Regions from separate parts of the Homo sapiens genome. Here region 2 is linked to region 1. The links come from fine-mapping of genetic effects on gene expression. A gene starts in region 1. The other region holds a variant in brackets. All regions are shown on one strand. Distances are from middle to middle.

The links.
Region 2: its variant is fine-mapped to the expression of BEGAIN in whole blood (INTERVAL, PIP above 0.99).

Annotation. Positions count from the first base shown.
Region 1 is chr14:100,585,370-100,590,730 of GRCh38, reverse strand. It overlaps BEGAIN (brain enriched guanylate kinase associated), which reads left to right and starts at 3,314. Exons shown (of 7, transcript NM_001385089.1): 1 at 3,314-3,482. The coding sequence starts at 3,441.
Region 2 is chr14:100,541,445-100,546,805 of GRCh38, reverse strand. It overlaps BEGAIN (brain enriched guanylate kinase associated), which reads left to right. Exons shown (of 7, transcript NM_001385089.1): 3 at 144-305; 4 at 1,740-1,806; 5 at 2,841-2,948. LOC124903382 (a long non-coding RNA gene) reads right to left here. Exons shown (of 2, transcript XR_007064334.1): 2 at 3,863-5,361. Among named protein-coding and RNA genes, the nearest start is that of BEGAIN, 43 kb to the left of the region's middle. The variant A/G (reference allele first, on the strand shown) is at 2,413.

The DNA.
Region 1 (5,361 bases):
TGGGATTAGGGTTAGGGTCAGGTTGGGATTAGGCTTAGGTTTGGGGTTGGGATTATGGTTAGGATTTGGGCTAGTGCTTGGGGTGTTTTTGGCAGTGTTTAGTGTTAGGGTTAGGGCTGGGTTGGGGTTTGGTTTAATGTTCCTTTTGGGATTTGGTTTTGGGTTGGCGTCTGGGTTAACTTTAGCGTGTGGTGTGGGTTGAGGTTATTGCTTTCTGGCAGGACAGTGTTGGGGTTAGAGTCGGGTTTAGGGTTCATGTTACTGTTCAGGCTAGCATTGGGGTAGGGTTAAAGTTTGCTTTGGTTTTGGGTCCCATTAGAGTTAGGTTTAGCATTTGATATAGGTTGGAATTTGGGTTAATATTGCAGTTGGGGTCATTGTTAGATACACACTTGGGCCAATTCAGGGCCTTCTCACCACCTGTGGAGGGCAGCTGTAGCCCGATTCTGCAGGGGACTCCAGAGTTTCAGTTGGAGCACCTGTTGTTTGTGGGAGAGTGGGAAGATACCTCTCACCTTCCCATTCTCTAGGGCTCATAGTCAGAACCCTTGCTCAATCTGTTCTTGTGGGTGGGGATTGGAAGATGAGGCAGGGAACTGGTCAGCATGGCTAGCTGATGCTGGAGCCCCTGTATGTGGCTGTCTGCGGGTGCCTCACTGTCAATGACTTCCCTGACGTGCTGTCCTTTCTTTTATACTCAGCCACCAGGGCCAGAAGCCTGGCATCACACCAGGCTATTCCTATCTCCCCCACCTCCATCCATCCATGCATTCTTTGGCACATTTAACCATGAGCCCCAGTGTGGTGCCACTTCCTGCCCTGCTCCCTGACCACAGTAGAGGACCACGCATCCCAGCGGGGAGATTGATGTCCACATCAACAGACAGATCAGATAGCTCTGGAACGCAGTAAGAGACACGCAAAAAACAAAATAGGGCAACGAGATTGAGCCATGGGGATGGTGATGTCAAACAGAGTGGTCCGTAGAGGTCTGAATGAGGGCAGGGGCCTGAGGAGAGGGTCCTCCATGGCCCCAGGGCATCACCTCGAAGTCCTGCCACTTTCATCCCTTCTTCCCAACCCGGCTGAAACCTTGCCTCCTCCAGGAAGCCTGCCTGATGCCCCAGGCTCTGCTGCACTGACTGTAGTTTCCCCATCTGCAAAAAGGGGCTAGTACCACTTCCCCTACAGGGGCATTGCAGGGATGCTCCCAGACCCACAACCAATGCCTGCTTTCTCTCCGCCTTCCTAGCTTAAGGGGGCTGGAGTGGGAAGGATAGAAGAGAGGGCAGGGAGGGTGGGGACGGGAGGTGCGTGCAGCATGGGGGAGGGGCTCTCCTGGGGCCTTCCCAGGCAGGCCTGAGCTGAAGCCTGCAAGCTGCTGGAGCTGAAGCAGGAGCCGCCCCCACCCCACCCGCCCCTCCCCCGCCTCCCCAGCCATCTGTGGCGTTGGCAGCAGCAGTGCCAGGGCGGGCGGTGAACATTCTGGCACCATCTGAGCAGGACCAGCCTCTGGGGAAGGGCCGCAGCCCAGGAGGAGGCAATGTGGGCAGAGCCCTGCCTGTACCCCAGGTTCCACATCCCCCATTGGTGTTTGTCCCCTTAGGGACTGGGGAGGGAAGGGACACTGGAGCTGGCAGGCTGGGCCTCACTACCTCTCACAGGATGCCTCCACTGCTGTGTGCTGCCTGAATGGTGTCTGAACCTGAGAGGCCAGAGTGGAGGTCAGGGAGCCTGTCCCTACTCCTGCTGGGGAGACTAAGGCCCCCTTGAGCAAAGAGGCTGGTCCCGTGGTGCACACCAGCGACGGTTTGGGCGAAGTCTGTCCACGCTTCGCCCAAACTGGGAGAGCCCCGCCCTGAGCTGCCGCCTCTCATTTTGTCTTGACTGTGGTGGGGTGCACTTGGAGGCGCCTCCCTCTGTCCATTGGTTACCCAATCATGTCCCTGGGACCTGAGAGGGAGCAGAGACAGGACTTTGCTTGACACGAAGTGGCTCCAGTCAGCTGCTGGTTCTTTTGCTTGTCTCCTTTTTTTCTGGGTTTCCCCTCTTGCCTTGCTATCAGTGCCTTTTCTCAGCACTGACACTGCCTGAATGTAGCAACCTACTCCCCAGATTAAATGAGAGAGCGTAGAAACTGCAAAGCATACAACATACAGCATATAAGGATGGTGGTGATGGCAGCTCAACAGTGGGAACTCAGTGTCCCCAAACTGTACACTTTAAAAGTGGTTAAAATGGTAAATTTTATGTTTTCCATGTTTTCCACAATTAAAAAACAAAAATATACAAGGTACTCATTCGCAGCATCTTCTAATCTGCCATGTACTTGGAAATGATATAAGCATGTGTGAACCATGAGCCCATAGGTCCCGAGGGAGGATATGAGCGAAGCACACGGGCTTTGCCAGCTCTGTTTCCACCACGCAGGACCCTCCCTGGCTGCCAGTGCTCCTCCCCGGGTTCCCACGCTGGCTGCTGCTGGGCTGGCTGGGATGGAAGACCCTCATGTAGCTGGCACCCTCAGGGCTGCCCCTTGCCCGCTCTGGGAGGAGAGAGGAGGGTTCACGCTGCACCTTTACCAGGGTAGGACTGGCCAGCCTGGGCTCTACCGGGCAGGTCGGTGGGATGCTTCAGACTGGAGGGATAGGCAGGGGGCAACACTGGTCCTCCTGAAGCCACCTTCCCTTCCTGAGAGCTCCTTGGGGAGAAGGCAAGCCCTGGAAGCCACCGACTGGGGGCTCGGGCAGAGCAAGGGCAGGGTAAGGGGCAGCTTGGCCAGGAGGCACCCTTGGGAGCCAGGGTTTCCTCATCTGTAAAATGTGACTCTGCGAGGGCAGGAGCTTGGTTTCACTCGCTACTGTACCCCCTGGGGCCTACAGCAGGGCTGGTTGGTACACACTAGGTGTCTAATAAATGTTGAGGGATTGAATGGATGGACCGATGAAAAGGTTGGGCAGGTCATTACTGACAGCCTCTGGGTTTCAAGGGCCCATTCACTCTGTCACTCACCTTCGCGCCCGTGCATTAGTTCTCTCATTTATTCATTCCCCCCGCCCCCCCAGCCCCGCATGCTCTACCGCACTCATTCATTCACGCGCTCAGCCATTCAAGCTGGCGCGGGTTCATTCATTCCCTGCCCCTCTGCCATTCCTCGCCTGGCCCCCGCGCACGCCGCACCCCCGCGCCCCTGCCCGGCCCTGCGCCCACCACTTGCGCCCCGGCCGGGCGCTGCCGGGAGGACGCGCGGGCTCAGCCGCGGCTGCGCGGGGCCGGGGCTGGCGGGGAGCCGGGCTGGGGGCGGGGGGCGGGCGCTCCCTGCGGGAAGCCGGGCGGGGTGGGGGAGCCCCGGCCGCGCCGGCTCCCGGCGCGCTCGGCCTCGGAGGGGAGGGGGCGGCGGTAGCGGCGGCGGCGGTGAGCGGCGCGGCTGCCCTGGGGCCATGTGGACTGGCGGTCGCCGGCCGGGCCGGCTGCGCCGGGCGGTGAGTACCTGCGAGCCGGGAGGGCAGGGCGCGGGCGCGGGCGCGGAGGCGGGGCGGGCGCCACCCACGCCTGGGGCGGTCCCTGCTCAGCGCGGGAGGTGGCCGGCCCCCCGCCCCGCTCCCCTCCGCGCTGCGCCCCCGCCGTGGAGGCTTCACTGGCCCGGGAGGAGCCGGGCCGGGTCTCCTGGGAACTGGGCACTCTCGGGTGGGGCGGGGATGCCCAGCCTCCGCGCGCCGCCGGGAGCGCCCGGGTCCTATCGCGGGGTCCTTGCGCCCTGACACGCGCGCCCCTGCGGCGGAAGGAAAGGAGGGACGGGTGACCAAGGGCGCGGCCGGAGGACTGGGGACCCGCCGCTGTCCCGGGCGGGTGGCGAGGGTGCGGGCAGGCCTGGACCCGCCTGCGTCTGGGGGCAGGGCCAGCCCCTGCTTGGGAGGCCGGAGAAAGGCCCGGGAGCCGGAAGGAGGCTGGACCCGGGGCCGCCTCATTGAGCGTTTGCAGCGCGTGGGCGCGCACGAACCTCGGACACCACCATCCCATTCAGTACCTCGCGGCAGGTACTATCCTCCTGCCCCTTTACAGGCGAGGAAACTGAGGCTCAGGGAGGCCAGGGCCTCGCCCAGAGCGGCTCAGCCGGCGCGCTCACCCTCCCTGAGCCCCAGCACGTTGGATGGGAATTTCTGCCCCAGCGTTTCCGCTTCCTGCTTGGTTTAGAGGTGTTTCCTTCCTCGTCTGTGCCCCACCCCATCCCCAATGTGGTTTCCTCAGGGCAGGAACAGCGTGGGCGACGCGCTGGAGTCTCCTGAGCCGGCAGAATGGGAGCAGAGTGGGCACCCGGGAGCGGGGCCGGATGGATAGGGAGCACTGCACGTGCAAAGTCCGCATGGCCAAGGTCGGCCGCCAGTGCAGACTGGGGGTCCAGGCCCTGGGGGTATGGGTGGGGCGGGGTCTCCACAGCCAGGCTCCGTCGGAGGCCCCAGTGCTCTGGCTCTCTGGAGGCCATGGACAGGTTCTTTTCCTTCTCTGGACCCTAGTTCCTCTGCCTGCCAAGAGCAGCAGAGACCCCCACTACTCCCAGGGCCAGGCTCCCACGAGGACTGTGGGCAGAAGCCCCTAACAAACTGCGGTGTGCAGCCCTGCCAGGCTGGCCTTGGTCTTGCCAGCAGGGGCAACTGGCCGTTGGGGGTGGCTCTGCCTGGCATCTGTGACACGCAGGGCGGGGAGACGGCAGAGAGGGCCCCAGCAGCATCCTGCAAACCCTTAATTTTCCCGACTCTCACTATAATCAGGGCAGCTTGGAAAAGCAAGCACTGTGGCAGATGCGGCTCTGCCCGGGCTCAGCACACGGGCTCTGGGCGATGGGCGGCTGCGCTGCCGCCAAGGGCCCTCCCCAGCTTTTGTCTCATATTTATAGATTCCAAGGCTCCGCGTTCCGTTTGTCGTCAAAACCTGGAGCTGTTCGCACCTGGGAGCTGAGTGGGGAGGGGAGGGCTGCCTAGAACCTCAGCCTGGAGGATGAGTTTTCCATGCGCTGGGGTGGAGTAGGGGGACACCTGTCAGAGCCCAGGCCTGGAGAGAGGAAATGAGCCCTAAGCAATCTGGAAGATCTTCCATCCACTCTCCCAAGACTTGGGCGCAGGGTCTGGCCCACATAGCTGCCATTTATGGAACGCCTGCTATGTACTGGGCCCTGGATCAGCATTTCCACGCATCATCTCCACGGCAACACTTTGAAGGAGCTTCCCTACTCCTGCAGGCACTCCTGATGCTGAAGAGTGGATGGATGGATGAATGGATGGATGGATGGATGGATGGATGGATGGATGGATGGATGGGAGGGAGGGAGGGATGGATGGGAGGGATGGATGGATGGGAGGGAGG
Region 2 (5,361 bases), 44 kb after region 1:
GTGTGTGTGTGTGTGTGTGTGTGTGCGCGCGCGCGCGCGCGCCGGTACTCGCGTGTTAGTGCGGCACGCCCCGGCTGGCCTGCGGGCCTTAGTTTCCCCCGCTCAGCGCCGCGGCCCGGCCCGCCGCCGCCATGTCGTTGCAGCGCGCTGCAGGAGCAGAAGGGCGAGCTGCGCAAGCGGCTGTCCTACACCACACACAAGCTCGAGAAGCTCGAGACCGAGTTCGACTCCACGCGCCACTACCTGGAGATCGAGCTGCGGCGCGCGCAGGAGGAACTGGAGAAGGTCACGGAGAAGCTGCGCAGGTGAGGGGCGGGGCGAGGGCCGGGGCGGGGCGAGGGCCGGGGCGGGGCGAGGGCCGGGGCGGGGCGAGGGCCGGGGCGGGGCGAGGGCCGGGGCGGGGCGAGGGCCGGGGCGGGGCGAGGGCCGGGGCGGGGCGAGGGCCGGGGCGGGGCGAGGGCCGGGGTGGGGCAGGGCCCGAGGCCCGGAAAGCCGCACGCGGTGCTCCCCTCTCACCCTGGCTGTTGACTCCACTCAGATGGGGAGTCCAGAGGTTCTGGTAGGGGAAGCTCTTCCTCCAAAGTCACACTATGGAGCAGCTGAGCCAGGATTTGAACCCAGCAGATCTCCAGACCCAGACTGGTCCACCCGGGGCCCAGCCATGGTTCCCTGGGTCCTGATGGGAAAAGCTGTGTCTAGCCCGGAGATGAACCAGTTTAGGGACCCTTCCCTTGAGCGCGTACGGGCTAATGAAGTGTCGATCCAGTTGTGCTGGACTCCCTCAAACACCAAACTTTTCTAAAAGCAGTTTTCTTGTGCACATTTAAAATGGATGTTTTTCTGAAATGTAATATGCACTTTCTCATCTTCTTAAACAGAAAATGCAAGAAGCATGCAACCTTTGCTGTTGGCTTGATTTGTTTTAGGTATTTGTAGAGAATCGGCTGGTGTTGCCCCTAGGGAGGACTTGCCATAGGGAGAGGGTTTGTCCCTCTCCGAACAGCCCCAGCTCCTGAGTGTTTTGAATGTCACCCTCCATTCATGTGGAAACCAAGCTTGGGCAGTGCAGTCAGACCTCAGTTAAAATCTGGGCCCTGCCAGTTACTGCTTTAAGTAATTAAAGTTTCACCTCAGTTTCCCTATTGGCAAGACAGGGGCCATAACACGACACATAGGTTGTCTGAGGCTGGACACCATCCCCAAGCCCCCTCCCACCAGCAATGGAATCTCCAAGCACCTGATTCCCACCTGACACTCAGCTCCACTCCTCCTACCCGGCAGAACCGAGTCTTGTTCACTGTGATGTCTCCAGCCTCACCCTGGGGCCCATCACATAGTTAGTGTTAAGTTTCTTCCCTGCTCATTTGCATTTGAACTGTCAACCCCATAACAGGTTTGTAAGAATTGTGGGTCAAATGTGAGTAAACTGGCTCCGCGTGTGGATGGGACAGAGTCTCTTGTGAATAACAAGCCTTCCCTTCCCATCTTCAGGGGGTCCCGGGGTGGAGGGGGAAATACAGTCCTGGGCCCTGGCCTAGGAAAGGCTTCTACAAAAGTTTGCTTTAATGGGATGTTCTCTGCTGTGTGCAGAGGGGCACACATTCCACCAGGGTGAAGCTGGTGGGGTGAGCTCAGGAGGTCCAAATTCAGCCCCACCCTGCTCAGCAGGCTGTGCGGCCATAAGGGTCGTGGGAGGGACAGGCCTTGCATGGCAGTGACCCCCTTGCCTCCTGCACCAGGATTCAGAGCAACTACATGGCACTGCAGAGGATCAACCAGGAGCTGGAGGACAAGCTGTACCGCATGGTGAGGCCGCCACGCAGCGCCCACTCCCCCACCCCACACCTCCTTCCCGGGGGGAGCCACCCAGCTGACACCCCTGGGCCACTCAGGAGCTGGGACACAGGTCTTGCTGGTCCCACCCCTTTCTCCATGGAACATGTGGAGCAGGGTGTGTGCTCTCAGGCTAAGGAAGTACTTGGGTCCAGGGCTGCCCTGTGCTGCCTGAGTGGCGGGTGCGAGCACTCCAGCCTGGGGGTGTGTAAGAGGGGCTGTGGACGGAGGACATACACTGGGAACGGGCCCCCCAGCTCAGCCTGCCAGTCCAAGGACCTGGGCCCAGGAGGATAGGGAGGCCCGAATTCAGGCCCTGGGTGAGCCAGAGGCAGGTTTGAGCCCCAGCTCCGCCTCTCATGGGGACCCCTCTGTGGGGACCCTCACACCACCTGCAGGTGACCTCAGTGGGGTCGCCATTTTCTCTGTGAACACACTGCTGGGACATGTCGAAGAGGGGCAGGGTGTGGGTTTCTGGTGCCACTCCCTCACTAGGATGAAGAGGTTTCCTTTCTTTCTACTTTGGTGACCAGCTCATTTTGGTTTTGAAAGCAACAACCTGCCCACCTTTGTGGTGCT[A/G]TCAGAGACGGGGGGTGGCAGGCCTGGGGGCTGGGCCTGGCTCTGCCTGGGTGCCTGGACACCGGCCCTTTCCTGAGCCTCAGTTTCCCAATCTGTCCAGTGAGGTGGGCTGGGCTCTATGCCAGGCACAAGTCATCTGTCCTCCGTCCCCACTCCCAGCTCCTGAGGCAGGACGCTGTCACCTCTGTGTTGCACATGAGAAACTGAGGCTCAGAGGCAGTGACGTCCCCAAGGCTGTGTGGCTTGGCAGTGTTGGACCCAGGAATTGAACCAGGGTCTGTCTGTGCTCATAAACCCCACACCCTTGGCCCTCTAAGTGTCTTGTCACTCATGGCTACAAGGGACAAACCAGGGGGTGCAATCGAGCGACTGGGTTGGCTCACCAGGAGCCAACCACGGGCCTCCTCCTCCCACTGTCCCACCCCCAGGGCCAGCACTATGAGGAGGAGAAGCGTGCGCTGAGCCACGAGATTGTTGCCCTCAACAGCCATCTGCTAGAAGCCAAGGTGACCATCGACAAGCTGTCAGAGGACAACGTGAGTGCCGCACACACTTGGCCCATGGAAGACTGCCGGTGGGCCTAGGCGAGGGCTTCCCAGGATGCACTGGGAGTCACATTCTGACTCTGAAGGGTCCTGAGCTCAGCTGCTTTGGCCCCAGCCTCAAGGGGCTGGTGCAGGGTACAGGTGGATGGACAGGCTGGTCAGGGCTTTGAGAAGGACCTGCTGCAGTTGGGGAAAGATGGTGCTGTCTCATTGAGGACGCCAAGGGTGTCCTTAAACAGACCCTCTGCTGTAAGGACTTGAGCTAGGGGATGCGGGGCCATATTATCCCATTCAAGGCAAGGCTTCCTGATCCCAAGGTGGGGTCATGGCCACTCAGGACTCCTGCCCTTGGCCAGTCCCAGTGTTGCATCACAGCCGTGTGGCTGCCCATGGGGCCTAATTTCAGGGACCCTGTGAGATGGGCCCAGTTGCCCTCCACAGACCCTGGACAGCTGCCTCTGCATTCACGAATTAGCTTCTACCTTGCCAGACCCTACTAGGCTCCAAGATGATGGTGTGAACAACACAGGCAAAAAAAAAAACAAAAAAAAAAACACCTCTGGCCACGTGGAGTTCACATCTGAGTGGGGCAAACTCTGGGGTATGTTAGAAGTGTGAAATGCTATAGAGAAACAGAAAGCGAAGAACGGTACCAGGGAGTCGCCAGCTGCAGGGCCTGCAGATTTCAAGAGGGTGCTTCTGGAAGGGGCTGCTGTGCCAGGACCTGAGGGAGTGAAGGAGCCAGCCATGCAGACATCCGTGGGAGAAGCATTGCTTCCAGGCAGAAGCAACCGTGGTGTGCAGCTGTACCTGGTTAACTCGGAGGATCCCAAAGGGGCCAAGGAGCGCCCAGCGGGAGGGGGAGCCAGGGTCTGAGGTCAGAAAGACCATAGGAGGCAATGTTGTAGAGGCTCCTCCCAGAAACCTGGGCTTTATTCTGAGTGCAGTGGGGAGCCATGGAGGGTTCTGAAAACAGAGGAGCAACGTGATTGCACGTGCAGCTTCCCAGGGCTCACGTGGCTGCCATGCTGGAAACAGGCTGTAGGGACGAGGACAGGAGCAGGAAGATCAGGAGGAGGCCAGGACCATAGTCCAAAAGATGATGGTGGCTCAGATGACGGTGGAACTGGGCAGAGGGCTGGGATTCTGGTTGTGTTTTGAAAATAGAATCAACAGGACTAACCAAGATTTAGGATGTGGGTTGTTAGAAGAAGAGCTGAGTCCAACCCAGCTACAGGATTCAGAGCCCAAACAAAAGGAGTTGCCTGCCATTTCCTGGCTGGGGACAGCTGGGGAGGGACAGGAGCTGGGTGGGAGATGCACAGGACCCCTTGGAGCGGAGATGTCACCAGGGCAGCAGGAGGCCCGGGTCTGGAGTTGAGCGTGAAGGCCGGCATGCCGGCGGAGACTGCCCAGGCAGCATGCAGATGAGAAGCAGGGAGGCCCCAGGACGGAGTAGGGACCAGCAAGGATGCCTGGGAGGGAGTGGCCAGTAGGCTGGGGGACACCAGGCGAGTATGGTGGCCCAACAACCACTTGAGAAGGGGGCTGCAGTCAATGCCCTGGCCGGCTGGCTTGCCAGCTGCTGAGAGACCAGGTCAGAGGGCCAAGGAGAGGCATTGGGATTTGGGGAACTGGAGGTCGGTGGTGGAGTGGAGCGGTGGTTCCAGACACAGGCCACCCTTCTAAGGAGTGTGGCTCTAACAGGAGGACAGGAGGACATGGGCTCGGGACAGGAGGTGCTTCTTAACGTGACAAGGCCAGGCCCCTTACCTAAGTGGACACTAGTCCTGGGGCCCTCTCTGCAGGGTTGGTGCACATGAGGAAACTAAGGCATGGCCAGCTTGAGTGGTTTCCCAGGTGACCCAGGTGGTGTCTCGCAGACGGAGCCAGAACTCAACCTCGGGACTCCGACTCCAGCAGCCCCGGGCCCTGGGTGGCCAGAGTGCTTGCCTCCACCTGTTCGCTCTGCCAGAGTGTCCCGTGAGCATTTCCTCCCCGAGCCAGCAGCTGCGGCTGCTCAGGAAAGGCTCCCAGCTGTCCCAGAGCTGGCCACCTCAGACATGGACAGCCCAGGGGCTTGGGTACTCAGCCAGGTGCCCCAGGGGCTATGGGCATGGCACCGGCTTCCCAGTGGCAGCCACTCCTGGCTGTGGCTGGTGGGGCTCAGTGGCAGACCTGGGCTGGCTGGGCAGTGCCTGCAGCCCTCTGGTGCCAGGGGCAGCCGGTCGACTGGGGTCATACAAGGGGTCAGTTCTCAGCTCTCAGGCAGCCGTGCTGTTCTGTTCCTAGGAGGCCCAGGGAGGCACTGAGAGGGGTTTGGCGACTCCGACGCCCTCCACCGTGTAGGCCAAGTTGGGGGCACCAGCCTTCAGTGAGGGAGGCTCCAGGGCCGTGGTGGGGG